Homo sapiens: one gene and its partners. The protein of the gene in region 1 interacts with the protein of each later gene in a biochemical or structural test. Each region holds a gene or a part of one and is shown in the gene's direction. Other genes may lie near its edges. The genes, in order: MAPK1, ITGB6, RXRA, TNKS2, NUP153, SOX10 and PTPN5.

Region 1 (4,395 bases):
TTTGGACTTGATCTTGTGGGTGACGGAGTCATTAAAGGATGGCCCTGTTTCTGTCTGCCAGTTCCACTCCCACTTTATCTCTTATGCTTTCTGCCCATTTTGCCTACTTACTTACTTTTTTTTTGAGACAGAGTTTTGCTTGGAGGCTCACTGCAACCTTGCCTCCTGGGTTCAAGCAATTCTGCCTCAGCCTCCTGAGTGGCTGGGATTACAGGTGTGTGCTACCATGCCTGGCTAATTTTTGTATTTTTAGTAGAGACAGGATTTCGCCATGTTGTCCAGGCTGGTCTCAAACTCCTGACCTCAGGTGATCCACCTGCCTCGGCCTCCCAAAGTGCTGGGATTACAGGCGTGAGCCATTGCACCTGGCCGCATTGTGCCTACTTTATCTCGTGGTACTCAGTGGGGGTGATTTTACCTCCCTGCTACAGAGGCATTTGGAAATGTATAGGGGGGCGGCTTTTTGTTGTGTTGTCACGTTGATTAGGGGGTGTTATTGGCCGTCAGTAGGCATGTCAAGGGCAGACATGCTAAATGGTCTGGATTGCACGGTACACTCCCTCCACTGGAGAATCATCCTGCCAAGATGCCCATAGTACAGCACCCCAGCCTGCCCCAAGAAACATCAGGCTCTATTTAAGTCCCGCTTTTCTCTAAAGCTCATCTCTATGAACTTTGCCCTATTGCTTCCTGTTAATGCACTCTCTTCATGGATCTCTGCTGGGTGTTTGTACCACCTGTTTGAAAGGCAGGAACAGCAATAACATATATCATATATAAAAACTCTAGACCTGGAGACAGAGATATTGAGATTCTTAATTTTGCTTGCTCATTGTTTACTTAACTTTTTTAATCAAGAAGTCTCCTCTACACTTTTGGAGCTCAAAGATGCAAGGACAGCAGCTTACATGAGTAACAGAAGAATCTAGTGTTTCTGAGCAGAGTTTAGAGTAAAAGGATAAGTCAAAACAAAATTAATTTTTATATTAATAGCATCCCTAATGATGTATTCCTGGTAGTTAGCTATAACCATTACACCATTCCCATAATCTGATTTGTGTAAATTCAAGTTGACTTTTCCCCAAAACTGTATGTAATTTATTCCTCACCTTGCTCACAATTTATATACCTATTAATTGAAAAACACCTCATTCCCCAACAAACATCTAGAGCTCCTTGCCTCCGGCCTACTCCACCCACCCTCTTGCCTAATCCTGAGATGCTATTTTGCTCCCCTTTAGATTTGCTTTTTTTCTTTCACTTCTTGAGGCTCCCACACTGAAAGGTGCCTAGGAGCTCATCCAGTAGCTGCGCTGTCTCTGCTCCCTCTAGGAAAGGCCACCTGCCTGAGCTTTGAAATGGCCCACACCGTACCAGAAGGAAGAAGAGAGATTCCAGGAGGATTCAGACGTTACCCAGGCTTTCTGGAAACTGAGCAGAACCACAGGAGGAGAAAGCTATAGGCAGCTGAACAAAATTTATGTGTTTCTATTTCCCCTGCTATAACATGAAAGGACTGGGCTCTGTCTGTGGTTTTCAAATCTCCTCCTCTCTTAGGGGCTTCAGGCCTCACCCCAAATAGGGAAACTTCACATACAGCATTCTCTCCCCTAATCCCTGTTTTTTCTATTCTTTGCTCTTCTCTTATCTACCTCCTTCCCCTCCCGTTTCCCTTCTTCCTCTGCCCTTAGTCTTTTTTCTTTTTCTTAATTTCCTTTTAGTCATTATCATCTTCAGTTCACATAGGTAGTAACTATTAGGGTTAGCAGGGCAAGATCCCATTTGGAAAAAGGATTTGATTGCTTTGAAAATGATGTTGGGCAACCCACAGGATAGATGGTCTCCAAGGTCCCTCCCAGATTCTCAGACTCAAGGCAGGCCCTGGGGTTTGAACCTATGGCCAGTAGGAGCTGGATAGCAGGTGTCTGCATGGATAATATGCCATGATCAACTGACTAATGTTAGTTGCAAGCCTGCCTTGCTGGTTTAAGCTTCATTCTCATTCTTGTCTTTTTTTTTTTTTTTTTTTTTGAGACAGAGTCTCACTCTGTTGCCCAGGCTGGAGTGCAGTGGCGCGATCTTGGCTCACTGCAACCTCTGCCCCCAGGTTCAAGCAGTTCTCCTGTCTCAGCCTCCTGAGTAGCTAGGATTACAGGTGCCTGCCACTGTACCTGGCTAAGTTTTTTTTTTTTTTTGTAGTTTTTAGTAGAGATGGGCTTTCACCCTGTTGCCCAGGCTGGTCTTGAACTCCTGACCTCGTGATCCATTCGCCTCAGCCTCCCAGAGTGCTGGGATTACAGGTGTGAGCCACCGCGCCTGACCGTCATCCTTGTCTTTGAGGTATTATATTTTGCACTTTACACATAAGGGAACTGGGTGTCAGGTAACTCGTTCAGGGTTCACAGCCAGTAAGTATATTGCAGAACTGAGATGTAAATTGAGATTTATGCAGACCCCAAATCCTGTGACCTTTTTTCTTTTAACTACTATAGGCTTTTCTCTGTTATACCGAGTTACCTAGAAACGTACTTCCTACAGCCTGGGTTCCTGAATGGATTAGCCCTAAAGTATAAAATGATTATGCCATTGCAGACAGACCTGAAGAAGAGGCTAGAAAGGATTAGAGTTAAAGTAACTTTGTTTTTTGTTTTTGTTTTTTCTTTATCTCCAAAGGATCTGTCATCTAGCAACTTAATTTTTATCAGGAAGCAGTATTGATTTCTTCCCATTCCTTCTAGTTACCTCTACCAGTTTCTTGATTTTCATTCATTTAATATTATTAAACACGTACCGGATTATGTGCTAGGCAGTAGGAACAAAGTAGTGAACAAAAGTTGTTCTTACTCTTTGGTGTTTACAGTCCAACAGGGCAGTAATAACATTTACTGAGTATGGTGAGGTGTGGAGTGCCACTGGATGATATAAGATATTCTGAGTAGTCATGAAGGGTTTCCGGGAGGAAGTGGTGTTTAAGCTGGGACCTGAAGGAAGACTTAGAGCTAGCTGGGTAAAAGGTAGGGTAGAGTGCTGGAATGTTTTAGGCACTACTTTGTAGAGACTGCATTATAGAAAATGAAAAGTTTATGATTAAGATCTGGGGGCCTTTGTCATATTACTGCAAGGATAGAAAGTGCAGTTAAAGCTTTAGGTATAGTTGGAACCAGGAACTGGAAAATAGACCAACGTAGCTACCTCCCTCCCTCTTTACAGTTACAAAAGCTTCTTGTACCCTACATCTCTCAGCAGCTGGATTTTCCCCCCTCTTTTCTCTTTTGTCACTTCCCCATGCACTCAGCAGAGGAGAGCTGACCCTAGCTCCCTGAAGGTATGTGTCTTCAGGTTTTTTGATGACCAGAGGCTGAGAACACTCTGAATCCAATTCCAAGTGGAACAGAATGTGTAAAAACACTGTTAGGGAGATCATTCTGCACAGAACAGCTCACTCCACCTGGCCTTTCCAGCCTGGGAGAGTGTCTGCCTCTGGTCTAGTCAGCTGAGGCCCAAGGTGGGGTCATTTATTAAATAAAGCTGCATATCTCGGAATGTCTAAAGGGCAAGGTGGGAATTGTCAAAAGGGGTCTCATTGATTTCTGACTTGTTAGGTTAAAGTTCTTGGTACTGTTTTCCCTGTCATTCTCCAGGGAGTGTGTATCACTCTCCGGTTTTTACAGATGAGGAAAATGAAACAAAAGTTGGGTAACTTGCCAGTCACAAGTAAGGGGTCAAAGGATTGTCATGAGTATTAAATAAAACAGTATACTTGAAGTCCTGAGCACTTGGTACCTAGTTAATGCTCTGTTATTCCTTTGAAGTAAACAGGGTTGACAAGATGTGAATCCCCCTTTGTCTCGGTCTCTATGTAAAGCAGCATGTGCAGAAGTACAAATATTTGGCTTGGTGGTCAGATGACTTTACAATGGTATGGAAGTGATACACATGCAGTAGAAACCTTACTTCCGAGTACCCACGCAACTGTTCTGTTTTTCATTTTCAGTATAGTATTTCATACATCATATGAGTTACTCAACACTTTTATTATAAAATGGGCTTTGCGTTAGATGATTTTGCCCAACTGTAGGCTAATGTAAGTGCTCTGAACATGTTTAAGGTAGGCTAAGCTAAGCTGTGATGTTTGGTAAGTTAGGTGTATTAAATGTATTTTCAGCTAGGCTGGGTGCAGGACTCATGCCTATAATCCCAGGACTTTGGGAGACCGAGGCATGAGGATTCCTTGAGCTTAGGAGTTTGAGACCAATCTAGGCAACATAGTGAGGCCTTTTCTGTACTAAAGGTACTAAAAATTAAAAAAAAAAAAAATTAGCCAGGTGTGGTGGTACGTGCCTATAGTCCCAGCTACTTGGGAGCCTGGGGCTGAGGATCGCTTGAACCTGAGTG
Region 2 (4,395 bases), on another chromosome or scaffold:
CCTTTGGATTTGTCCGCCCAAATAATTTGATGTTAACAATTTTTATAGCAATGCCTTCAACTCCTAAAGCAAATGGAATTTTCCATTTTTGATAAATTTATCTTGATAAGGGATGTTTCTGTTGTATGCGGTTATTCTAAATTAATGATAATACATGGTACAGGACAATGAACACTGAAAATTTTTATCTACTTTATCTTCCCATTAAAAATGCATTTAGATACAACAGCCAAATGCAATGTATGGATTTTGTTTGGATCGTGATTTGAACAGTCCACCTGTAAAAATACATTTTTAAAACAACTGGAAAAAGGCTGGGCATGGTGGCTCACACCGTAATCTTAGAACTTTGGGAGGCCAAGACAGGAGGATTGGATCACTTGAGCTCAGGAGTTCGAGTTGGGCAACATGGCAAAACCCATCCCTACAAAAAGAAATACAAAAATTAGCCAGGCATGGTGGTTCACACCTGTAGTCCCAGCTACTTGGGAGGCTAAGGCAGGAGGATCACTTGAGCCAGGAGGTCAAGGCTGCAGTGAGCCATGATCATGCCATTGCATTCCAGCCTAGGTGACAGAGTGAGCCCCAGTCTCCAAAATAAATAATAAATAAATACATAAAAAGACTGAAAAAAGATTAATACATGCTGGGTATTAGAATGATAGCAAATAAGTATGGTTAATTTGATTAGGTATGATAATGGCATGGTGACATTGCTAGAAAATATCCATATTTTTTAGAGATGCATACTGAAGGAGTGAAAGGAAATGAAAGCTGGGGTTCACTTTGAAATAATTCAGCCAAGAGAGTGGGATGGAGGGATAGTTGAAGCAGGTGTGGCAGAACTGTGATAACTGTGGAATCTGAGCGATGGGTCTTTGGAGGTTGGTTATATAGCTTTCCTCTTTTTGCGAATGTGTGTATTTTCCATAATTAAGCAAAATTCCTCAGGAGAAGATATAATTTACTCATCCCTAACAATGTAAAAGGTAAACAGGTTAGCTTGGTGACTTAGAACACAGTACTAATGAGCCCAAAGTTGTAGGACAGTTCACTTCACCTGACCCCTGGCCACAGATGTTATTTTTGACTTTCATCAACTCTCCAACAAATGCCTTGCCATGGTTAGAAGGGCAACCAGGTAAAAGAATATGGTTAAGTTGCCACAAAGGACAATAGCAGCAAGCCCCATGATATAATCCTGGTATTTCCATTTTGAAGAGCTAAACTAAGGCTCAGAGAAGTTAAGGGACTTCCCTAACTTTTGGTGCATGGTTAAGCTGAAGCCTAATTGTTCATTGTTCTTCTAAGCACAGCCTTTGGTTGACCCTCCTGGAAATAATAAGCAGGTGTTCCACAAACACGCACTTGGGCAATTATGTGATGTGTATCTACTAACCAGCACATTTCAATGTTCTCATACAGAGGCATAAATACTGACAAGTGATTAATATCTTTAAAATAACATTTTAATTAACAGTTAATTTCCCCAAAAACATGAATTGTTCTCCCTCAGGATGTAGAACATGACTGAAATTCAAATGCTGAATTTTTGCTGTTTCTTCATCTAACATGCGACCCGAACATGCATTAAACAGAAAAAAAAGCATAAATGGAAAATATTATTCCCTTATTAAATTGAGTTTCTTTGAATAACAAATGTTTGATGTTCCTGACTAGATAATGACTGGGTAGTAATTATTCACTTGGATGCAAAAAAGGTTTAACTCAAATAATTCAGTTTAAATTTCACTAACATCCTACTGGAAAAAAATGTCGCTCACTGCACACATTTAGGGGTCTTCAATTTAACTGAGTTTTTTCCCTAAAACCTATTTCTTCTTGAAGAAGTGAATTTGACTGGTCTTTGAAACCCAGTGCCCTCCAGAGACAATAGGGACAGTCAGGCCTCCTGGCCATAGGACTGCACTGGACTCATAAAGTGACAGGGCTTAAGACAGAAAGGTCTTCACTCCTACCTCCTAAAACATTTCAGAGCAGCTGTAAAGAAAGGTTATCTTTTTTATTATGCTTTAAAAAATAATGCCCACCCCCACATATTCTTTATGAAAACACAAATGAAACATATTTAAATTCATCTTTGATTAGAATTTTTTTTCTAGGATGACAAGTCATTAACTTGAGGCAAAAAAATGTTCAGCCTGACATTTCTTGCAGTCATGAATTGATTTTGTACTGTGCTAAGCAAATCAGGTCTGTGTTTGGCAGTTGGGCGATCATTAAGGAAGCTGTGGGTCATGACAGAGTTTTCCTATTACCACTTTTTCAATCTTGAAAAATGTGTCATTGCATTTGCAGAATCCACAGCCTAAATTAGCACTCCCAGACACCTGGGGGAATCAGCCTGGTAACCCCAAATGGTTAGGGGAAAACTGACCTTTTCTGAGCAGTGGATTGCACACTCACCCGAAATAGAGTAGGACTCAAGCCTGCATTTCAGCTGGAAAGTCTGTGTAGAGAGGTTACAATCAGCAGAGCACTAGAGGAGGCAGTGTGGACATTTCCACACCTCCTCCTGGAACAAAACCCAATGTGAGTGCATTATCCTGACCTCTGATCTTCAGCTGAGGCCAGGAAATACCCTATTACACACAACAGCAATATGTACTTGCTCTTCGTCCACTTTTACACTTCCACCTTACCCTCTTACTCTAGTGAAGTCTGCTTTACCCATCACTCCCTATAAGCAATGTCTTGGCCCTAAACCAGTATTGCAAGGGACTCCCAAAATATTGCAAACCTGAATGAATGAAGTTGCTTTAAAATACGGAATGAAAACTCTGCCATCAAAATTAAACATTCAACTAAATATCTACTAAATAACATTGTGTTATCTTGTCAACTGCAATTCAAGTCACCTCCTCTATAATGCATATCAGTTATATTAAGTGTGGGATATGGGTGTATTGTAGTATGTTTGACATGATATAGGGTGCACCTACAAACAAGTATCTGGTCCTACGGAGCTCTAAGCTGGCCCTGCTCACAGCCTGTGTCCTCTTTCCAAGTGTCTTTTCTGTTCACAAAGGTGGGAGCTTCCTGGAGGAAGTGGGAAATTCCTCCAGGACAGGCTTACCCTGTCATTGCTGGCCTGAACCTCTTACTTTTTTCCATCTTGTTTCTTCAATGGAGTCTCTCATTCTCCTGTAACCAACTAGATTCTAGTCTCAAATTTAATAGAATTCCATGCATGATTTTTGTTTGCAAATGAGACTCCATCTACATCTAAATTCACATCAGTCTGCCCTTTGCCTTCAAAATCTCAAATTCTTAGAGCAGCAAGACTAGATAAGATCTGGAGGTCCCTCAGAATTAACCAGGCTGCTCTCAGGAATAGAAGCAATATACCAACTTAGCTTTCACCCATCATCCACCACCAGCCAAGGAACATTTTTCTGTTTGGCTTTATTATAGAAATAGCATATCTCTTTAAAGGCACATAACAAAAGTAGCATGTCACTTAGTCAGAGGTCAGGCCACTGGCTCTGGACAACATAGAAATGGGTGCAGGTGTGATTCCCACTCACAATGAGGGCACTGAGGCCAGTGAGTGGGAAAGACCGGGGAGTGTTTCCGATTTTATTCAATTCTTTTAAGAGCTGAAAGAAATATACTGAGCAAGCAAAGACAATTAAGGTTTTTTTTCAAATCCACCCCTAGAAATTTCTACCATAGCTATAATTCATGGAATGAGGTGATCAAAGTATAAGATTTTAACTTAGAAGGTCAGAGGCGGTACCTGGATTCCATACATACTCAGTAATGGGCTTAGAAATGTTAAGTGTACCAAAGCCCTGGGGGAAAATATCTTAATAATCCTCTCTAAAACCTAAAAGAAAAGGAAATTCCAAATGTGAAGAAAAGCTATAAATAGGAACTAATGAGAAGAGGCAGCATTTATGGAGCATTTGCTATGTGCTACACACAGTGCTAAAATACTTTACCTGGACGAGGTAGGAACAGATAGGGACACCAAGGCTCAGAGTGTCTTCAGTACGGTCATGTGGTGGAGCTGGGTTTGGACCCAGACTGTTGCCATAGCCTGTGTGATCAGCCTTGGAAAGTGGGAGAGAAGAAACTGTACCTTACCCAGACACCTTCCTCCGGCCTGGAACAACTAGAGAGGCTTGATCCTTCTGGACCTTCTGGTCCTTTTGGCTACAGCACCACTGCTATTGGCACCTGGAGGCACATCTATAACCCAAACAGCACAGCTGAGCTACCCAAGAGTCCCACACCCAACCTTCCCACTGCCCCCAAGGCAAAGCCATTTTTCCTGGCCTGCCTTTGGACTGCAACTCTTTCATGACCCCAGGGTCCTCCATACCAGTCTCTTGTGGTTGTCTTACACAGTGTTGTACATAGTAAGCAAAA
Region 3 (4,395 bases), on another chromosome or scaffold:
CAAAATTGTCAAGTCATCCAGCCAGACCTGGGTCGGAGTCCCGGGCCCCACAGGCACTGTGACTTCCCAGTCCTGGCTGGCTGTAGTCCTCAGTTTCCCCATCTGTCACATCCCCTTTCCCTCTCAGGTTTGGCGATTCCTGGCCTCTTAGTGGGTCCCTGGGTCATGGTTTGCACACACGTTTGGGGGTGTGCCTCAGTTCCTCCCATCGGGTCCCGTGCCCTGGGCCTTGTGGAGGTGGGAGGTGCTGTCTGGGGTGAAGATCTGTTGGTCTGTCCCTGTCCCCCCGCTCTGCAGGACACCCTTCCTCTGTCCTCTGCTGTGCTGCTCCTGAGGCCCAACACCTGTGTGGCTGGTGTGTCTTACTTCCTCCCCGCCAGCCCCTGGTGGGGTCCCCAAACAGGACCCACACCACTGTCTCACCGTCAGGGATGTCCTGAGTGGCCACCTTGGTGCTGCAGTTTCATTTCATCATCTCTCTTGTGTATGTCTTCTCAGCCTTAACGGTCCTGTTGAGAAATCAGAGCCTCTGCCAGGCGCCGTGCTCCTGGAGGGTGTCCTCCTTGGGCTGCGAGGCTGAGTGTGGTGTATGGGCTGGTGTGAGGTCCTTGTGCCTGCATAGCAGAGCTGCCTTCCAGAGCTGGTGTGGCCATGCCCAGTGCTGCCAGTCAGGCCTTTCTGATGGGGATTCGTGTTTCATGGAGTGCTGACGTTTGCTCAGGCCCACCCTGTGCTGTGCAGGTTGGGAAACCGAGGGCAGACGGTTCAAGCCTTGCGCAGGGTCACATGCTGGGCCCTGGCCCCCATCCAGACCTTGTTGCTTTCACCAGAGGGCAGAGGAGCATGTGCCCAGCCTGGAGAGGTGTGTGCCCAGCCTGGAGAGGTGTGTACCCAGCCTGGAGAGGTGTGGACCCAGTCTGGTTCTTCCGGGTGCCTGGTGTGGGCAGGGAGGCTTGCTGTGGTGGCAGGTGCAGCCTTGTCCCTGGAAGATGGAAACTGGGACAGGGGCAGGCATAGTAGGCAGTGGCCGGGGCCCCTGTGCCCAGGCGTGGAGACTGGCCTGTTCTGGGGTGGAGGCCCGAGGCGTGGCTGGAGCTGGGGGGGGAAGGCCTCGTGTGCAGCCTTAGCCTGGCAGTCTCTGTGAGGATGCCACAGCACAGAGAGCTTGGTTTAGCCGAGACCACTCTCAGATCCTGGGGGCTTCAGGGAGACCCCTGCGAGCTTGGGGGCAGATGAGAGCGCTGTGCATGGCTGATGCCTGGCCTGGGCCTGCAGCAGTAAGCTCGCTGTCCTTTGAAAGTGATCATCAGATAACCAGGGGGGGCCCAGGGGGCAGCCAGTGCAGGCTTAGGGGAAGCTCAGGCACTGTGGGAGCCCAGAGGAGGCACCTGACCCTGCCTCGGGCACCCGGTGAGACGCAGGCAGGCAGGAGGGCTGTTGACGCCTGAGGAATGAAAAGGTGTCGGCACCACAGGCCTGGCTGCAGGGAGCAGTGTCCGTGAAGTCTGAGGCTGTCATCACACCTGGCCCTCGGAAGTCGGTGATGGCCTTTCTGAGCCCCGTCCCGGACCCTCCAGGCTGCACTGACTCCTTCCTAAGGCCCTGCAGCCCAGTCATCCATGTGCCTGGGATCATCAGACTCCAGCTGCCTGGGCCCCCCAAAGCCTGGGGACGACACCCCATCCCATCCCAGTGGAACCGTGCAGTGTTGGGGCTGGGGGGACCTGGAATCACCTGGTCAGACCGCTCCCCTGGTGCCCATCGGTGACTGGGTCCTGTTAGGAGCAGCTCATGTGGGGGACCACCCTGGACACCCCCTTCCTGATCCCCACACATGGTCTCACTCGCCCCATACCTGTGAGACAGAGAAATGGGGTATAGAGAGGTGAGCCGTGGGGAGGTCTAAGGGCCAGCACCAGGCGTGGCCCCCATTTCTTGCCGGTCCTTCCTGCTTCCAGTCCTTCCTCTTGGCAGCGCATAAGCCCTGGAGACCAGACTTAGGGCCGTGAGAGAAACTGCTGCTGCTGTCAAGGGACCTCCTCCCCTTTGCCTCCAGCAGGATTCTGAGGCGTGAACTTGCAGTCAGAATGCTGCCGAGCGCTCTCGCCCCAAACACAGCTGCAGAACTCAGCCTCGGTGTGGAGGGCACCTCTGCGTGGGCGGTGAGGAGGCAGTGAGGCCCCCGTGCCAAACGTGCCCTGCTGCCAGTGCCTCTCCTTGTGCACAGGGGGAGTCTCTTGCCTCCCCCAGCCTGGCTGTGTGGGCTGCACAGCCAGGCCTGTGGAGCTCCTTACTCTTGGGCAGTAACGGGGCCCCTGGTGCAGCCCAGGCACTCGCCCTGCAGGGACCCCACGTGGAAACGGTGGCTGGGAGGGCTTGGCAGGCACCCTCCTCCCCGGCCTGCGTCTGGGTGCTGGGCAAGACCCCTTGGCTCCAGATGGGTCCTGAAGTGCAGAGCACTCCCCTCTCTCCTCTTGGGCAAACCACTGCAAGGCAGGCTCCCCGACAGCGGAGGGCAGGGCTGTTGGCTGCATGGGTGAGGCATTGCAGCAGCCCTGGAGAAAGCTATGGGGCCAAGTTGGCCAACACTAGGTGCCTGTGGCCCAGAGCATGCAGGATGGGAGCTGTCGGCTCTGGGGACTGAGCCCTCCTAAGTGTCAGGCCCCCTGGTGGGCAGCTCCGCCCACTGGCCTTGGTGTCAAGTGGTCCCTCGGCCCGGTTTGTGATCAGACCCCTAGAAACAGGCTGGAGCTGAGGCGTCGCATCCCAGTGCAGTGCTGCGAGGGAGTCGCCTGGGGTTGGTCCCAGGGCTGGCTGAAGGCAGGATGGCCCAGGTGCCCCCATGCGGTGACTCTGCCCCCGGCAAAGGCCCACTCTGGCTCTGGGGCAGATGGGTTCCCACCCCTATGCGGTAGGATACCACAGGCTGATAGCATCTCAGGTTGGGCAATGGGGCCTGCACGCGCAGGCAGCCACCAGGAGGGACTCGTTCCGCAGCATTCCCGGGACCAGGGGTGGGCAGAGGTGGGGGGACGTGCAGTGGTGGGTGTTGGCCCTCTGCCAAGCTGAGCCTGGGCCTGTTTGCTGAAGCCGGGGAGGGGGCAGGGGTTGGGGGTCCCGCAGGGACACGTGCTCTGATGGGGAAGACAGGCCTCACCCTTGGGGGTTCCCAGTCCGATGGAAAAGACCTAGCTTCCACCCAGGGTCGTCGGGGGAGACATTGGTCTAGAGGGGGCAGTGGCTGTCCCCCATTCTGCTTCCTCCTCCTCCCTCAGGAAGGCTGCTTCCCATTTCCTTCCTGCCTGCCTTTGCTTCCTGTGCCCACCCTCCAGCTCTGAAGGACTGGGTGTGGAAACAGCAGGGTCTGGCGTGTGTGCACCTATGTGTGCACGTGTGTGCATGTGCGTGCACTGCAGGGATGTGGCTGACCCACAGGTCTCTGCTGTGGGAAGGGAGCCCCGGCTGGGCTCGAGTGTGGCCCTCTTGCCTTCTGGCCTGTGAACTGGGCAAGTGACCTTGCCTCGCCCAGTCCTCAGGTTCCTCATCTGTGATGGGCTGGGGGCATCAGGAAGACCCCTGCGAGCTTGGGGGTGGATGAGAGTGCTGTGCGTGGCTGGTGGTGGGGTTGGAGAGCAGTGGTCACGTGTGGGTGTGGGTGTGGTATGTCTGTGTGGTGTATGGGTGTGCGTGTGGTGTGTGTGTGATATGTCTGTGGTGTGGTATGTGTGGTGTGGTATGTCTCTGTGTGTCTGTGTGTGTATGTCTGCATGGTTTGTGTGCACGTGTGTGTGCATGGTTCTCGTGTTCTGATGCCTTGCTCTAGGTTGAAGCCCTGGAGGGAAGGTAAGTCACTCCCTTTAGAGACTCTAGCTTGCTGTGTGGCCTCTGGCGCTGCTCTCTGGGTCTCTGTCTCCCCACCCTTAAGAGGAGGCCAGAATGGTTTGGTGGAGTTCGGTCCTGCCTGTCTTGGGCCCAGCCCTGGGCTGCACAAGGGACGGAGGAAGGACTCAGCCATTGCCACTACCCAAGCCAGAGGAGCCAGTGGGCCTGGGGATGCCCCTCGGCTCCGACATGCCTGCCTCGGAGCTGTCTGCCCTTCCCCAGACCCCCTCCCTCCTGCTTGACCCTGAGGGGCTGTGGCAGGTCGGAGATGTCCTTTGCTTCTGAGGGGCTGCTGCACCCTGAGTCCTAGGCCAGCTTGTCTCTGGGGGCCTGGGACCCCAGTGATGCTGGGGAGGGTCCGCCTGGGCAGGAGTCTCAGGTCTTCCTGGGAGGACTGGGCTGCGGTGTGTGAGTCTCCTCTGCCTCTGAGCAGCCTCCCCCGTGCCTCCACTCTGCCTCCTCCAGCCGCCACGCTCTGGTCTGGAGGGTAAAGAGGCTCTGTGTTTACAGACA
Region 4 (4,395 bases), on another chromosome or scaffold:
GTACTTGAAGCTATTAGCTGAGTTCGAGTTCACTTTATTACTAGTATGTTACATTCAGTAAGAACAATTGAAGTAGGCTCTGCCAGTCCCCATGTGCTTTGGGAATCATTATTCCAGGTAATCATTTTATTGGTATCACCTTTGGTAAACAAGTTTTGAAAAATATGCCTACTTGAGCCAGCCTTCCTTATAGGAAGCTAAAGCTTTCTATTTTTCCTGATGGTAGCTGCTAAGCACAAGCAGGAAAAAAAAAAAATCTCAAAACTCTCAGAAGTTACATAAGCCTCTCACCAAAGTTATCTGTTGTTTTGGTTTGTGAGAGTTCTCATAACAAAATACCAAAGACCAGGTGGCTTAAACAACAGAAATTTGTTTTCTCACAGTTCTGGAGGCTAGGAGTCCAAGTTCAAGGTGTTGGCAGAGTTGGTTTCTTCTGAAACCCCCTCTTGGCTTGCAGCTGTCTACCTTCTCAGTGTGTCCTCCATTGGAACATGGTGTCTCTTTCTATATGTCCTAGTCTCTACTTTTAAGGAAACCAGTCAAATTAGATTAGAGCCCACCCTAATGGGCTCATTTTAACTTTTTTAGCTCTTTAAAGGCTCTGTCTCCAAATAGAGTCATATTCTAAGGTACTGGGGTTAGGGCTTCAACATAAGAATTTTGCAGGGTACAATTCATTTCGTGACATTTGTTTTAAGGTTTCACTCATAAAACTGGCACAGTGTACCTTTGTTTTCAGTGCAAATATACAATATATTGTGGTTTCAGTACAGCTTTTTCAGCTGCATTACAGATGTTAGGAAATCATTAAAATCACTGAGCTATAGCTAATACCTCAGTGGAGTTCCATCATAGACACAGCGGACTCATACAAGTTTGTCTAAATATACATGATTTAAACATGGTATAAAAAGCAAGAAAAAATAATGCAAAATTTCTGCCATTTCGTGTAATGTGGGAGATGGAAATGTATGATGTTCATTTCAGTCTTGTATTATAACTTGGTGTTATACATGATTTTTACCTTTAAATTCTCACTCCATGTAAGTTGAGACCTCACTGTCCAAAGAAACCAATTACTCTATGTGTCTTTCAAGTATTTTGGAAGTGATAAGCCACAAATGCTAACATGGTGAGAAAAAGCTTTACTTCCACTGGCTATCAGGAGTTTCTAGTCCATGCAAGACAAAATATGACTTGACCTTTGATTGGAAGTTGTGCTGTGCATATTTATGTTAGCTTTTATATCTTTCTTGTAGCCTATCTAGAACACTTAACATTACTGTGTCCAAGTTGTCTTTGTAAGTCACAAATAATTTGTATGCATAAAATATTTCTGTCCACTTCTGCAGCGTTAAATACCATACCTTGAGACCTAGAAAGACTTTTAGATTAATGTAATATTTTATGGTAGTTTTATAATTGTATTCTTCTTTACTTGATCTTTTTAAATTCTTTTGCTTTAAATCCTTTAGCAAAAGGATAAAAACTATAATAGAAATAAGTTTTATTTCATGGCTTTAACAGCACCTAAGTTCCTCTACTAGACTTGCAGAGATGTGTACCTCTGAGTTCTCTCTAGCAAAAAAGCATGCTCTTGTGGCCTTCTGGGGAAGAGGACTCTGAGGCCCACTCTGGTTTGACTTGTATGTGATTGCAGACCTTTGACTTGCAGCCTCTGAGACCCATGTACCTGAGTTCAAGAAGTGGTATGTAACACCCATGAAGGCAGAGACTTTGGTAGGAAGGTTTTCATAGGAAAGATACAAGCAAATCAGTCAATATAATTTTGGGAATCTACAAAGCTAATTGATAACACAAAAAGCTTCCAACTTGAGGCAAGGGGGAAATGTTTTCCAGAAGGTAAATTGTTAATAGAGTCCAATGAGCTATTTCAGATTTATACAAAATCTCTTTTTTTATGTTTTCAGTAATGTCTATGCCTTATAAATACATATATATATGTATACATGTAATGACTTTTTTATGTTAACAAGTGGAAGTATTATGACATAGGACTAAAAAAGAAAAAACAAGTAAAGTAATTTTACTTCTTTTCTAAATTAGCTGGTTATAATAATTTAGAAGTTGCAGAGTATTTGTTACAACACGGAGCTGATGTGAATGCCCAAGACAAAGGAGGACTTATTCCTTTACATAATGCAGCATCTTACGGGGTAAGTTCTTCCGTGTTACCTTTAAAAATTTGTGGAATTTTAAAGTGAAAGTCAGTATTGCAGCTCAAATGGAATGTAGTTTGATGTTCTCATTTTACAGAGAAGTAAGTGGCAGAGCTAAAGAAGTTAAATAACTTCCAAATTTCGGTTCTGAATCTGTTCTAAGCTTGCTGTGTGATATGCGGTGTATTGTTGTTTGTTTTATTATCTGCCTTAACACCTGTCTCTTATTTTCAGTGAGATGTTGGTGATTGTGTTTATTTGTTGGTACCCAGAAAATCCACTGGGGCACCAACGGGGTAGATGGAATCTGTACAGATTCAGATGCATTGTTCCTGACTTATCATAGTCCAATGTGACATTCAAAATTGACCATCTTCAATGGTATAGTTTGAATAATTGAGGAAGATTGCTGCTTTATAAATTGACATTTAGTAGTTATAACATTTGAATAAATTAGAAATTATTGAAGTCATATTAGTCTAGTTTCCTGCTAAATAGAATTCTTAACTCTTTTCTAGATAGTTTCTCAAGTTATTGAAATGTCCACTGTAATTTTTAATCAGCTACTCATAAGTTGTGATGTTGGGGAGAAAGAGTTTTTCTTTTCATTTCCAGAATAAGTTTGAAAATGTGGAAGTAGGTACGTAACTAGTTTCATTTTAAGAAAGTAAAGTGTGACAAAATAATATTTCAGACTGTAACGGGTATTTTCTTTTACAGCATGTAGATGTAGCAGCTCTACTAATAAAGTATAATGCATGTGTCAATGCCACGGACAAATGGGCTTTCACACCTTTGCACGAAGCAGCCCAAAAGGGACGAACACAGCTTTGTGCTTTGTTGCTAGCCCATGGAGCTGACCCGACTCTTAAAAATCAGGAAGGACAAACACCTTTAGATTTAGTTTCAGTAAGTGATGGGCTTTTTGAAAAATCTCAGTGCTTTTCTGACTTGTTAAAATTCACTTGATGTTATTATAAAATGTCTTTATAGTCAATGTGAATGGCAAAATCTGGGTTTTAGCCTGATTTTAATGTAAGAGTTCTTTAGTATTAAAATATAATAGAATTATAAAGTAATATAATTATCCTTCTGTAGAATAGAATTATCAATCAGTTATTATATACTGAGTATTTTGGAAATAGGAAAAAGAAGTACATGATATAACTGCTTACGTTAGTTAGGAAACTAAACAGACCCAGGCCCTCAGAAAATGCTGTTACTTATAGTGCATACAGCGCAGATGGTACAGACCATGGGTCTTACACACGGCCCCAACTGGGAACATTGCCCCCCAAGGTGCAGCCACAAACCCTGCTGCCAGTAGAGATTCCTTTTCCTCCCACACTGCCTCATCCCAGAGTTCTTGTTGCTCACCCTACCTTAACTGTTCATGAAACAAGTCTATTATCCACTTTCCTGTGGAGGTCCTGTTTTCCTTCCCCTCTCTCCAGAGCATGGAGCAGGTGTAGGAGCTTCCACTGAACCTTCCACCTCTGCTTTGGGCACTGAAGCAGATGCCTCTCTTGCCTCTACCACTGAGGACATTGACTAGAGCAGTGGAAAGAAAGGAGGAAGGAATTCTTTTTGAGATGAGAAGGAAGGGGAATCTTTTCTGCAGACTGCTTTCTACTGAGAAAGATTACATTGTTCCACATTACAATAAGAAACTGAGGTAGTTCAGCTGCATTGGTGCTTAAGTAGGTTTTTCTCAGTCAGCTAACAACCCAGCCATATTTACAACATTATCTCTTCAGGGAAATATCTTTCTAGTTCCAAGTTACCTTAAAAGTGAACATTTGGAATTCATTCCACCCATATGTTAGTTGACCAGATACAATTAAGTTACAATGAAGCAAAATGCTGTAGAGAACATACAGGGGCTTTAGAGTCAGACAGACTGGGCCTAGAATTCCAGCTGCACGATTTAAGTTGTACAATCTTATGAACTGCCTAACCTCTAAACCTTAGTTACCTCATCTATAGATAGAGGTAAAATATATCTGGTTAGTATGAGAATTAAATGGGGTAATTTACTTAAAGTCTTTGGCATGGTATCAGGTACATAAAAAGCACTCAATAAATGGTACTATTATTATAAACAAATGTCATTTACAAATTGTGAGTGCAATGGGAATGCATAGACTGGGGGAAGAGAAAGGTGATGACTGGAATAGTCAGAACAAATGACTATGAAACAAGTACTAATTTATTC
Region 5 (4,395 bases), on another chromosome or scaffold:
CCTGTAGTGTGGTAATCACCATACTTTTAAGTATCTTAGTACTTCTTAATGATCCTTGTTTTGAGCCAGTAGGTCAAGTACTTCATTTCTGATTTCCTTAGCTGCAGAAAAGCATTATGAAACCAAGACTTTGATCTTGTCAGTATAATGCTTGCTCTCTTCTCTTTTCTCTTCTCTCCTCTCTCTTCTCTCCTGTCTTCTCTCTTCTCTCCTCTCCCCTCTCCCCTCTCCCCTCCCTTCTCCCCTCCCCTCTCCCCTCTTGTCTCCCCTCCCCTCTCGTCTCCCGTCTCCTCTGCTCTCCTCTGTTTTCTTTTCTTTATTTATTTTGAAGTGGAGTCTCACTGTTGACCGGGCTGGAGTGCTGTGGCGCAATCTTGGCTCACTGCAACTTCTACCTCCCGGGCTCAAGCAATTCTCCTGCCTCAGCCTCTCAAGCAGCTGAGACTACAGGCACAGACCACCATGCCTGGCTGATTTTTTTTGTATTTTTAGTAGAGATGGGGTTTCGCCATGTTGGCCAGGCTGGTCTTGAACTCCTGACCTCGGGTGATCTGCCCGCCTTGGCCTCCCAAAGTGCTGGGATTCCAAGCGTGAGCTACCACGCCCAGTCTGATGTTTAACTTTATAAACATTGCTTCAACTCTGTAATTCTTCTGTTTTTCTGTTGCCTTCCTTTTTTAAATGCTTGAGTGAATAACACATTTATTCACAAGATTTAAAAATCAAGAAATTGTGACAAGGTTCAATCTCTTCTCTCCATTGTCTCTTTTTCCACCTTCCCTCCCACTTCCAAATGTAACTGTGGTTAGTTTCTTGTAAATCTTTCAAAGTTTCTTTATGCCCATCCAAGGCAAACATACATACCCCTATATATTCTTACTTCCTTTTACCTTGTTAGAAAAGTCTGTATACCGCACTCCCTTTCTGCCCCTTTGATTTTATCAGGGATTATCTTGGACACATCTTTGTTCTTCCTTCTTCGTTTATAGCTGCCTGGATTGCATATGGCATTTTGCATGTCTATGAGTTTATCTTTAAAACAAACTCCAGCTATAGAATTGCAAGGTCAAAGGGTATATGCATTTGTAATTTTCGGTAACTATTGACAGATTGCTCTCTATGAGTTTTGTGTTCATTTATACACCCACCTGCAATGTGTAGCCTGTTACTTCCAGTCTCATCACTAGTACAAACTTTATCAAACTTTATCGCAGCCAGTCTGATAAATGAAAAGTGGCTTGTCAGGATAGTTGTGAGGATTGAGATATCATTCTCATACCGACTAAATATAGGTCACCTTGGATTATGTTTACAGCTGCTGGTAATACTCTTCAAAGTAGGCCCTTTCAAAGTTACTCCTATGTTTCTTTGGCTTTCACAGTGTTTACATTTTGTTTGAGAGGATCAGTACATTGAGTGTCTATGTGGTGTCTTTTATATTTTTGTAGGCTTTGACACATCTTCCTCATCTTCGAACTCAGCAGCCTCCTCATCCTTCAAATTTGGTGTCTCATCATCCTCTTCTGGGCCTTCTCAGACTTTAACAAGCACTGGAAATTTTAAATTTGGAGATCAGGGAGGATTCAAAATAGGTGTGTCATCCGATTCTGGGTCTATAAACCCCATGAGTGAAGGCTTTAAATTTTCTAAACCAATAGGAGATTTTAAATTTGGAGTTTCATCTGAATCTAAGCCCGAAGAAGTTAAAAAAGATAGTAAGAATGATAATTTTAAGTTTGGACTTTCTTCTGGTTTAAGCAACCCAGTTTCTTTAACTCCATTTCAATTTGGGGTATCTAATCTTGGACAGGAAGAAAAGAAAGAGGAACTGCCCAAATCTTCCTCTGCAGGTTTTAGCTTTGGTACAGGTGTTATTAACTCCACCCCTGCTCCTGCTAACACCATAGTGACCTCTGAGAACAAGAGCAGCTTCAACCTTGGAACCATAGAAACCAAGAGTGCTTCAGTGGCTCCTTTCACATGTAAGACATCAGAAGCTAAAAAAGAAGAAATGCCTGCCACCAAAGGAGGATTCTCTTTTGGCAACGTGGAGCCTGCCTCTCTGCCATCTGCCTCAGTGTTTGTTTTGGGAAGGACAGAAGAGAAACAGCAAGAGCCTGTCACTTCTACTTCCCTAGTTTTTGGGAAGAAAGCTGACAATGAAGAGCCAAAGTGTCAACCAGTGTTTTCCTTTGGGAATTCAGAGCAAACCAAAGATGAGAATTCTTCAAAGTCCACATTTAGTTTTAGTATGACAAAACCATCTGAGAAGGAATCTGAACAGCCAGCAAAAGCCACTTTTGCCTTTGGAGCTCAAACTAGTACTACAGCTGGTAAGTATTAACTTTTTATTATTATTATTATTATTTTTTTTTTTACAAGTTGTCGTTTTACAAGTTGCCTTGACAGATGCAGCAAGTCAATTAATGGTTTACACTGAACATAGTTGAGAAATACAGAACTCTTTGGGAAGGAACCTAGGATTTTCAGTTTGAACTGCTCTTTAAAACCCTCATGATTCTGGTGAAGTCATCTGTGGATCTAATTTTGAGAAATACAGCAGTAATGCAAAGCTCAATATAGTGCATATTTATGTGTGTCTTTCTCTTCTGTTTGGGCTTTTATAATCAGAATTGGTATCTACTACCTGGAAAATAAGGATTCTTAGCTTATGAAGTATTTTCTACCATAATCTATGGGAAGGCCTTTATTTACAAATAGTTACAGATAACCAGTCCTCATCAAACATTAAGAAACATAGACAACAAATATAATTAATCCTGAGAAAACAAGAGATTTTGAAAGCTGAAGTCCTGGGGAAAAAAATGACATAGCACCTTAAAGGTTAAAAGCATGATTGTTGGTGGATCCTATTAAAGTCATTCTGTGAGCTGAATAGCAGGAAGAACTTCATAGCTGATAATCAGATTAGTGAACTAGAATTTCCCCAAACTTAGTGCACCAGTACAAAGAGTGATCCAAGTTAGATCCACAAGTTCCTTTGGGATAGGAGTGGCCTAGAAGATAAGAAGTTTTGGGGAAATATCAAAGAAGTGACAGAAGAAAATTTTCTAGATCTAAAGAAAGACATTGGTCTTAAAAATGGAAATTACCTATTGGCAAAGATCACTGAAATTTAGGACACCAAAGCTAAAACCCCAAATGCTTTCAGAGAGAAAAGCTATTTGCCACAAATAGGCAGGTATCAGATTAGCATCATCTTCTAATTTGTAACATCACATGCTAAAAACAACAGTGCCCTTAAAGTGAAAATGTTCTTGAACCTAGAATTCTGTTACTAGCCAAATGTGTTTAAATATAAAGACAATCCGGGTGCCGTAGCTCACACCTATAATCCCAACTAGTCGGGAGGCTGAAGCACAAGAATCTCTTGAACCTGGGAGGCGGAGGTGGCAGTGAGCAGAGATTGGCCCAGTGCACTCCAGCTTGGGCAACAGAACAAGGCTCTGTCTCAAGAAAACCCAACAACAACAAAAAAACACCAACACAAAGGCAAAATACAGATGTTTTTAGATGTGCAAAAAATGCAAAAGTTGAATATCCATGAATACTTTTGAATAATAAATTGGAAACACTCAAAATTAACCTTTAAAAAGTATGGAATTCAACAAATAGCTATGAGCAGTTTTTTGTCTGTTATATATTTACTTAGAAATATAAAGACAAAATCAAAACTAAAATTACATATTATTTGGAAAGCAACAAAAACATGATAGGGTCTAATCAGATTTGATGATGAAAACACCAGGCTATGGTAGACACTCTTAACCATTCTTCCATTAGCCAGGTTGAAAGTAAGCCAACATGTTCCATTTTCTGTAAGTCATACTAATGCCCATAGTGTACTGTGACCAGCCCTGGATAGTGTGCGGTATTGGAACTGAGAGATTATTGGAATAGTTTAGAAAAAAATCTTCAATAAGGTGGCTGGATTCAGAATCACCATATAAAAATCAAAAGTTTTTCTTCAAATCAGCATGTCTCATTTGTTTTTCCTAACATTTCTAACTTGTATTTTATAAAAGCAGCAGAACTTGTAACATGCCAAATAACTAAAAGAACACAAAAGGCATACTTGTTGCTGGGTGAAGGTATTCCCTTCCTCCTCCCATAATTTTAGTTCTTAGGGGAATTTTTGTAGAGCTTGACAAGCTAAACTTATTCTAAAATTCACATGGAAAGGAAACCACACAAGAAATTTTGGGAAGAAGGGCAGGCACACAGGCAGCTTTGTCCTACTAATATCAGTCCATGGTATAAAGTTATAATAATTAAAACAGTCTAGTGATAACAGTAGAGGAAACAAGTATATGCATTTTAGGAAATGTAGTGTGTGATAAAGACAGCATTGCAAATTAGTGCACAAAGGCTGTA
Region 6 (3,621 bases), about 16 Mb from region 1:
ACTACAAGTACCAGCCCAGGCGGCGGAAGAACGGGAAGGCCGCCCAGGGCGAGGCGGAGTGCCCCGGTGGGGAGGCCGAGCAAGGTGGGACCGCCGCCATCCAGGCCCACTACAAGAGCGCCCACTTGGACCACCGGCACCCAGGAGAGGGCTCCCCCATGTCAGATGGGAACCCCGAGCACCCCTCAGGTGAGTGCTGATGACAGAGCTGAGGGTGGGGCAAGGCCAGTCAGTGGAGACAGGAGATGGCTGGATGGCAATGAGACCCTGGACTCTAGGGAGAGCGTGCCAGGCTGTGCAGTTGCCCCAGCAGAGCTGCAGGGGCCCAGAGGGAGCTCCATGGGGGTTCCGGTGCCAGGGGAAGTGGCTGGGTGAGATGGCTCTGGCCAGGGCTGATCCTACTGGGCAAAGAGGGCCAGTTAAAGACTGTGGAGGCCGCCGGGTGTGGTGGCTCACACCTGTAATCCCAGCACTTTGGGAGGCCGAGGAGGGCAGATCACGAGGTCAGGAGATCGAGACCATCCTGGCTAACATGGTGAAATCCCATCTCTACTAAAAATAAAAAAAATTAGCTGGGCGTGGTGGCGAGCACCTGTAGTCCCAGCTACTCAGGAGGCTGAGGCAGGAGGATGGCGTGAACCCAGGAGGCGGAGCTTGCAGTGAGCCGGGATCGCGCCACTGCACTCCAGCCTGGGCGACAGAGCGAGACTCTGTCTCAAAGAGAAAGAAAAAAAAAAAGACTCTGTGGAGGTCATGGAGTGAGAGGTGGCTGGGGCAGTTACAAGTAAAGGGGGAGAAGACAGGATGGTTTTGAGAAATGGAAGAGCAAATGGAGGAGAGGAAATCACTGCCTCTTTCCCACCAGCCATTCTTTTTTTTTTTTTTCTGGAGACAGAGTCTCACTCTGTCGCCCAGGCTAGACTGCAGTGGCATGATCTCGGTGCACTGCAACCTTTTCCTCCCGGGTTCAAGCAATTCTCCTGTCTCAGCCTCCCAAGTAGCTGGGACTACAGGTGCACACCGCCACGTCTGGCTCATTTTGTGTATTTTAGCAGAGACAGGGTTTCACTATATTGCCCAGGCCCAGTCTCAAACTCCTGAGCTCAGGCAATCTGCCCGCCTCGGCCTCCCAAATCCCACCAGCCATTCTGACAGAGGAGACATGGCATGTGATACCGTGTCTGGCCATGGATGGGCCAGACATAAGCTATCTTGTTTAATTTTCATTAATGATAATAACAGCTAACCTTAATTGAGCAGCTACTCTGTTCCAGGCACTGTGCTAGGTGCTAGTTGCCTTATGTATACTAACTCAATCCTTGCAAACAATGTGATGAGGTACCCAAACTGCCTGGGCTCAGATCTCAGCTGTGGCAAGTTACTCTCATTTTACTGATGAGAAACAAACAGGAACTTCCCCAGTTTGGCTCCCGGGCATCTGCTTGGCACCACAGCTGCCTTGCCTGTGTTCCTAATGTACAGAAAGTGACACACACAGGTCTGCCACATGGGAAGTGCTCAGTGAGCAGAGCTCTGCCTTCAGAGGACACGCTCTGAGTCCTACTTTGTGTCAAACACTGGAGTGGACACCAGGGGTACTAACCAGAGAAGCCTACAGTCCCTGGCCTCAGGGGCCCATAGTCTAGAGAGAGGAGCAGGGATGAAAACGAGTGAATTAAGTACAGGAAGAAACAAAGCTAGGCATGGTGGAATGCGCCCGCAGTCCCAGCTACACAGGAGGCTGAGGTGGGAGGATCACCTGAGCCCATGAGTTTGAGACCAGCATGGGCAATGTAGTAAGACTCTGTCTTTTTTTTGTTTTTGTTTTTGTTTGAGATGGAGTCTTGCTCTGTTGCCCAGGCTGCAGTGCAGCGGTGCCATCTTGGTTCACTGCAACGTCTGCCTCCTGGGTTTAAGCGATTCTTGTGCCTCAGCCTCCTAAGTAGCTGGGATTACAGATGCACGCCACCACACCCAGCTAATTATTGTATTTTTAGTAGAGATGGTTTTTCACCGTGTTGGCCAGGCTGGTCTCGAATTCCTGACCTCAGCCTCCCAAAGTGCTGGGATTACAGGCATGACCCAGCACGCCCAGCCTCCTATCTCTTACTATATATATAGTATATATATAGAGAGAGAAACAAGTGCACAAGAAGTCTGTGTGAGATCCAGAGGTGGCATGGCCGTCTATCCCATCCAGTCAGGTCTCCAAGAACACCCCACTGCCCACCAGACTCTTGTCAAGGAAGGCTTCCAGAAAGAGGCAATGCCTGGGCTGCTTGGTACAATCTCTATTTTACTGATAAGGAAACTAGTTAAGAGAAGACTGGGGATTTGTCCAGACACAGAACCAGGATTCAAAAGCCTAGGCAGGTCTCTTGAAGTACAGAGCCCTTGGCCAATGCAGGACTTGGCGCTGCCTCTGGTCTGATGAAGGAGGCACAGGCCTGTCCTTGGGGAGCTCCTAGTCTCTTAAGACCATGGACATGTTCTGTCTCCATTGGGATGCCAGGCAGTCATCCCTCCCACACACGTGTACATACTCTTCACCTTCAAAGATTCAGGGACACACACACACACATCAGGAGACCCTGGACCACATACAGAGCAACCACCTCAGAATGAAACTGGACACAGACTTTTTCTCACCCTTCAAGGCCCCACCCCACTCAGACATCCTTCCCTGATCAAACCTTCCCCAAATCCCTGAGGCAGCGGGTGGACTCCTCCTCTGGTCTCCCAAGTCCTTGCATATTGTCACCACAGCACTTCCAACTCTGGGTGCATGTGGATCTATGGATCTATGACTAGACTATGAGCTTTTGGGAACAGGGATCCATTTTATTTACATTAGTATCCCCAGCACCTGGCACAGTACCTGGCATTTTGTAATGCTCCCTAAGAGTTTGCTAAATTAATATGTGAATAGGAAAGTGAACAGACAAAGGAACAAGGACCAGTTTTCTAAGTGCCCTCCCATGGAGGAAGGCAGCTCAAAGAACAACAGGGCAACACAGGCCAGCGTATGACGGGGCTAAGGGCTTGCCAGTGGGCTGGGAAGCAGGGTGGGCTCAGGAGGAGGGAAGGGTTGGAAAGGACACAACATGAGGCCAGGACAGGGAGCAGGCCCAGGCAACCAGCAAAGGTGAAACAGAGCACTCAGGAGCCTGGGCGAGCGAGGCTCAGCAAGGAAGACAGTAGGCATGGGTGTGGAAGCGGGGCTGGCAGAGCGCAAAGGCTGGGCCAGACCACCTGGACAGCAGAGAAGCTGATGAGAGGAAGAACTTTCCACAGGAAAGGTTTTTTCAGAATGAGGCAGGCCTCCCCAGGACCCATCCCTAAGATTTGAGAATTTCATAAACAACTAGAGATCAATCTAAGACACCAGTATTTAAACAAATGCTGTGGGGCGCAGTGGCTCATGATGGTAATCCCAGCACTTTGGGAGGCCGAGGCAGGTGGATCACCTGAGGTCAGGAGTTCAAGACAACCCTGGCCAACATGGTGAAACCCCGTCTCTACTAAAAATACACAAATTAGCTGGGCATTGTGGTGGGCGCTTGTAATTCCAGCTACTCAGGAGGCTGAGGCAGGAGAATCATTTGAACCCAGGAGGCAGAG
Region 7 (4,395 bases), on another chromosome or scaffold:
CAAGCCCTCAAGGCTGGGATAAGGGGAAGGCTGGAATTCTGAGCTACCGCACCAGCATCTGAGACCTCACACCCTGCCTCCCTAACCTAAGAATCCAGAACACAGGGCCTCCCCGACCCCTGAGCTCCCAGCCGTACAGGGTTCTCCTGAGAACTCCTGTCTGTGGAGGCCTTTCTAGGAGACTACTCTTTTGATGTACATATTTGTGAGGTCCTCTCTGGAAAGGGCTTTCTCTTGGTTCCCTTCAGTCAGCTTTTCTCCAAGGAGAGTCCTGAGGCCTCCCCGGGCACGCAGCACCGGGGCCCTGCTCTCAGCTGCCCGGTCTGGACCTTAGAGGTTCAGGAGCCTCCATGCAGGGCCAGGTTGAGGCTGCAGGTGAGCTCTGCTGGGGGAACACGGGGGAAGGGGGCCGGCTCCATACTCAGCCTGCTCCCCTGTGCCCCAGCTTGCCTGTGGGGTGCTCTGGTTCAGCGGTTATGGCCACATCTGGTCACAGAACGCCACAAACCTCGTCTCCTCTTTGCTGACGCTCCTGAAACAGCTGGAACCCACGGTAAGTAAGCTTTGGGGAGTCCTAGGGTAGCAGGGATCTGTTGGGGGCCTCTAGTCCCACCCTCCCCAACCTCCAGATTGGGCTTCTCTGAGTTCAGAAGATACTTCCAAGCCCCTGAAGTTCTTCTGCCTGCTCCCCATCCCAGACCTGGGACGTGATTTTCAGAATCTTGGTTTTGTCATCATTGCAAGAGCTGAGAACTCTGCCCCCACCACCACCCTGACCTGTTTATCTGATGTTCCCCAGGCCTGGCTTGACTCTGGGACGTGGGGAGTCCCCAGTCTGCTGCTGGTCTTTCTGTCCGTGGGCCTGGTCCTCGTTACCACCCTGGTAAGGCGCCTCCTGACCCCAACCTCAAGGCTGTCCTCCTCTGACCTTGAGGCCTGGATTTCTACCAGCTCCCATCTGACTTATAGGCTGGACATTCTGGGTGGGGCAAGGAGGGATACCTATCTCTTTGCACAAGTGTGCCAGCCTGGGGCAAGAGCCTCCTTCTTTCCGAAAATTGGTTTGCAGTGATCTGGGCTAAGGAAAGGGGATGAGACAGGGAGAAGACTGGTGTAGGAACTCCCAAGCCCCACTGAGAAGGCCTGAAGCCACAAGAAACAGAGAGCTGGGAGAGGGAGGGGCAGGGAAGGAGAGTGGGCATGGAGCCTCCCATCGAGGCCAGGGGCAGTGCCTTGTGGACAACTCCCAGGAGAGCAGAGCTGCTCTAGACACACTGAGGGAGTGGGGGGGCGTCAATCCCATGGGCACTCCAGGAACACGGGGGGCAGCCAGCGTGGTCCGAAATCTGTGATGCTGTACACCCCAACCAGGTGTGGCACCTCCTGAGGACACCCCCAGAGCCACCCACCCCACTGCCCCCTGAGGACAGGCGCCAGTCAGTGAGCCGCCAGCCCTCCTTCACCTACTCAGAGTGGATGGAGGAGAAGATCGAGGATGACTTCCTGGACCTCGACCCGGTGCCCGAGACTCCTGTGTTTGATTGTGTGATGGACATCAAGCCTGAGGCTGACCCCACCTCACTCACCGTCAAGTCCATGGGTCTGCAGGAGAGGTGGGAGGGGTGGAGGAGGGGTGGGCTCCACGGGCCCTTGAGCTCTTAGCTCCTGATCAGAAGAGTGGATGCCTGACTCTGACTCCTGGTGCCCAGGGCAGAGCTGGCCTTATAGCTTAGCCAGTGTAGACATGTGCTATCCAGGTCATTCATAGAGATCAAAGTGCCCCAAGATGAATGCTGAGAAATACTGTTACTGCACACGCACACATAGGTGTACACATGTTCACACACACTCTCCCATGCTCAAGTAAGTTTGGGTGGTTTTCTTTGCTGCAGGACTTGTCAGGGCCTTTAACATGCTTATGTTCATTGTAAATCAGCAAGGGGGCAGTATGTGGCATTTCCCAAAGTCACTTGACCACGGAACTCTATTTTTTTGTTTTACTTTTATTTTGGATTGAGGGGGTGCATGTGCAGTGTTGTTACCTGAGCATATTGCATAATGCCGAGGTTTGGGGTACAAATGATCCCATCACCCAGGTACTGAGCGTAGTGCCCAGCAGTTAGTTTTTCATCCCTTGCCCGCCTCTCTCCCTCCCTCCTCTAGTAGTCCCCAGTTTCTATTGTTGCCATCTTTATGTACCTGGGTACCCAATTAGAACCTGTTTTTATAGGGTAGCTCATAGTGTTCCACAGAGCACACTTTGAGAAGTGTAGACACCCTCGTTTCAGAGTCTAGGTGGGTGAGCCAGATCACACCAAATTTGAGTTACCCATGTGATGTCACAGAAAGAACACTGGGTGTGGAGTCAGGAAACCTAGCTTTTTATTTCAGCTCTGCCACCCCCTTACTGGGAGAGCCTGGACAACTCTTGGCCCTTCATGGGGACTCAGTTTCTCTTTCTATGTAATGAAGCCCCATCCTGTCCTGTGTCTGAGACTCTGAGTATAGTAGAGTTTGCCCATTGTAGACATCCTTGCGGCCACCGTGCTGCTCCTGGGACTCCCTCCTTCCTGACAGCGGGGGTCCTGGCCTCTCCTGGACAATATGTCCTTGACTCACCAGCAGCCTCATCCCAGGGCTGTTGGGCCCGGGACTGCAGTGGGGAGGGTCTGGAGCCATCCTCTCGGGCCCAAGCCCCGCTTCTGTGCTTCAGGCAGGTGTCCCCTCTCTGAGCTTCCTGGGGACCACAGGGTAGAACTTCCTCCAACGGTGATGGAGGAGAGTCCAGGGTAAGGCCATGTTGGGGTAGCTTTGGATGGAACTTTTAGAACTGGAGCCCCAAATCCCCACTAAGTTAACATCTCCACTGCAGGAGGCAGGAGATAGGGAGTCAGGCCAATGCCTCAGGGCTGAGATTCACGCTTCTTTGTCAGGGGGTCTTGTCACACTCCCACTCCTCTTCCTCAACCCCACCCTGTTCCCAGCTGATCTCTCCCTCCCTCATTTTCCCAGCCCTGGAGACCCCAGCTCATGCCCGTCCCTCTGCCCCTGAGGCTCACACTCCCTTTCCTGGTCCTTCCAGGAGGGGTTCCAATGTCTCCCTGACCCTGGACATGTGCACTCCGGGCTGCAACGAGGAGGGCTTTGGCTATCTCATGTCCCCACGTGAGGAGTCCGCCCGCGAGTACCTGCTCAGCGCCTCCCGTGTCCTCCAAGCAGAAGAGCTTCATGAAAAGGCCCTGGACCCTTTCCTGCTGCAGGCGGAATTCTTTGTGAGTTCCCTTGAGCCGGTCGCCCCACTGTGTGCAGACCCATGTCAATCATCCACCTGCCCAGGTGGTGGAGCGTGGTGCCTGGAACTCAGCATCTGCAGTAGATTAGTATCACTTTATTATCAGCTCTCCCACCATCTTGGGCAAGCTGCTTTCCCTCTGAGCTTCAGTTTCCTCATCTGGAAAATGGGGATGAAAATAATAGAATTGTTGCAAAGATTAAAGAGACTTATAACATGTGCAGAGCACCCAGCCAGGTGATGGAGGTACAGTGACAATGCTAAGTCTTTATTGCCCAGTGCTGTGCTCTGAAAGCCACAGAGAACCTTCACTTCTAACTCTTCTGTTTTCCCACTTTCCTCCTGCCGAGCATTGTTCTTCTGCCTTTGAAATCTCTCTAGTGGCCTCCCCTCGTTACCACCCCTGGGGCCCTAGCTTAGGTCCTAATCACCTCCACCCTGGCTTCTGCAGCAGCCTCCAGCTGCCTCCTATTGGACTTTGAGGGGCTCAATAAATGGCACCCCTGTTTACCTGCCTGAGTGCTCAGCCAGTTAAGAGCTAAGGCATAGGAGATTACAATATCACCTTTGTTGTCAATAAAATACAGGTTGGAAATGTGGCTTAGCAGGGTACAGCAAGAGTGAGCCTCCCGATACTGAGACCCAGAATTACATGCACTTTCCACCCTCCACAGGGGTGCCGGCACATCTCGGACCTTGCCGCATGGGGGCACCCCTATAATTCTTTCCTGGCAGGAGGGCCCTGAGAGGAGGAGGAAGGAAGGGGCTGAGGCTCCAAAGCTCCATTCCTCAACCAAATTCACCAAACAGGTAACTCCTCACTTCTGTGAGCAGGAAAAGGCAAGAGGCCAAGAGTATCTGGGGTGAGTTCCTCCTGGTAGAAGCCACAGGGGTACAGAAGCAGGTGCCTCCTCCCTCATAGCTCCCTTCCTTTGGCCTCCGCCCTGGGCCTGTCTGGACCGGGTAGCTCTCCCCTGTGAGAAGACCTCCATCATCATCTGATCTGCTGCTCCAAGTTCTCCAGAACTTGGTACCACCTGCATACACCATCAGCACCCCTTACCTCGTGTGGCCCCAGCCTCCTTTTCCAGCCTTATGCCCCA

The links.
Region 2: the proteins of MAPK1 (region 1) and ITGB6 interact in a test that uses a peptide from one of them, tested with the Homo sapiens proteins (one study listed by BioGRID).
Region 3: of the proteins of MAPK1 (region 1) and RXRA, one has a biochemical effect on the other in vitro, tested with the Homo sapiens proteins (one study listed by BioGRID).
Region 4: of the proteins of MAPK1 (region 1) and TNKS2, one has a biochemical effect on the other in vitro, tested with the Homo sapiens proteins (one study listed by BioGRID).
Region 5: the proteins of MAPK1 (region 1) and NUP153 form a complex in vitro, tested with the Homo sapiens proteins (one study listed by BioGRID).
Region 6: of the proteins of MAPK1 (region 1) and SOX10, one has a biochemical effect on the other in vitro, tested with the Homo sapiens proteins (one study listed by BioGRID).
Region 7: the proteins of MAPK1 (region 1) and PTPN5 form a complex in vitro, tested with the Homo sapiens proteins (one study listed by BioGRID).

What each region holds. Positions count from the first base shown.
Region 1 is NC_000022.11:21,857,113-21,861,507, reverse strand, and holds part of MAPK1 (mitogen-activated protein kinase 1), read left to right. Parts: intron 1-4,395. UniProt on the Homo sapiens protein: Serine/threonine kinase which acts as an essential component of the MAP kinase signal transduction pathway. MAPK1/ERK2 and MAPK3/ERK1 are the 2 MAPKs which play an important role in the MAPK/ERK cascade.
Region 2 is NC_000002.12:160,102,455-160,106,849, reverse strand, and holds part of ITGB6 (integrin beta-6 isoform a precursor), read left to right. Parts: intron 1-4,395. UniProt on the Homo sapiens protein: Integrin alpha-V:beta-6 (ITGAV:ITGB6) is a receptor for fibronectin and cytotactin. It recognizes the sequence R-G-D in its ligands. Internalization of integrin alpha-V/beta-6 via clathrin-mediated endocytosis promotes carcinoma cell invasion.
Region 3 is NC_000009.12:134,409,610-134,414,004, forward strand, and holds part of RXRA (retinoic acid receptor RXR-alpha), read left to right. Parts: intron 1-4,395. UniProt on the Homo sapiens protein: Receptor for retinoic acid that acts as a transcription factor.
Region 4 is NC_000010.11:91,842,852-91,847,246, forward strand, and holds part of TNKS2 (poly [ADP-ribose] polymerase tankyrase-2), read left to right. Parts: intron 1-2,067; coding exon 2,068-2,177; intron 2,178-2,900; coding exon 2,901-3,089; intron 3,090-4,395. UniProt on the Homo sapiens protein: Poly-ADP-ribosyltransferase involved in various processes such as Wnt signaling pathway, telomere length and vesicle trafficking.
Region 5 is NC_000006.12:17,626,593-17,630,987, reverse strand, and holds part of NUP153 (nuclear pore complex protein Nup153), read left to right. Parts: intron 1-1,448; coding exon 1,449-2,333; intron 2,334-4,395. UniProt on the Homo sapiens protein: Component of the nuclear pore complex (NPC), a complex required for the trafficking across the nuclear envelope. Functions as a scaffolding element in the nuclear phase of the NPC essential for normal nucleocytoplasmic transport of proteins and mRNAs.
Region 6 is NC_000022.11:37,974,435-37,978,055, reverse strand, and holds part of SOX10 (transcription factor SOX-10), read left to right. Parts: coding exon 1-189; intron 190-3,621. UniProt on the Homo sapiens protein: Transcription factor that plays a central role in developing and mature glia.
Region 7 is NC_000011.10:18,739,480-18,743,874, reverse strand, and holds part of PTPN5 (tyrosine-protein phosphatase non-receptor type 5), read left to right. Parts: intron 1-445; coding exon 446-553; intron 554-799; coding exon 800-883; intron 884-1,371; coding exon 1,372-1,613; intron 1,614-1,987; exon of another isoform or gene 1,988-3,082; coding exon 3,083-3,272; exon of another isoform or gene 3,273-3,451; intron 3,452-4,395. UniProt on the Homo sapiens protein: May regulate the activity of several effector molecules involved in synaptic plasticity and neuronal cell survival, including MAPKs, Src family kinases and NMDA receptors.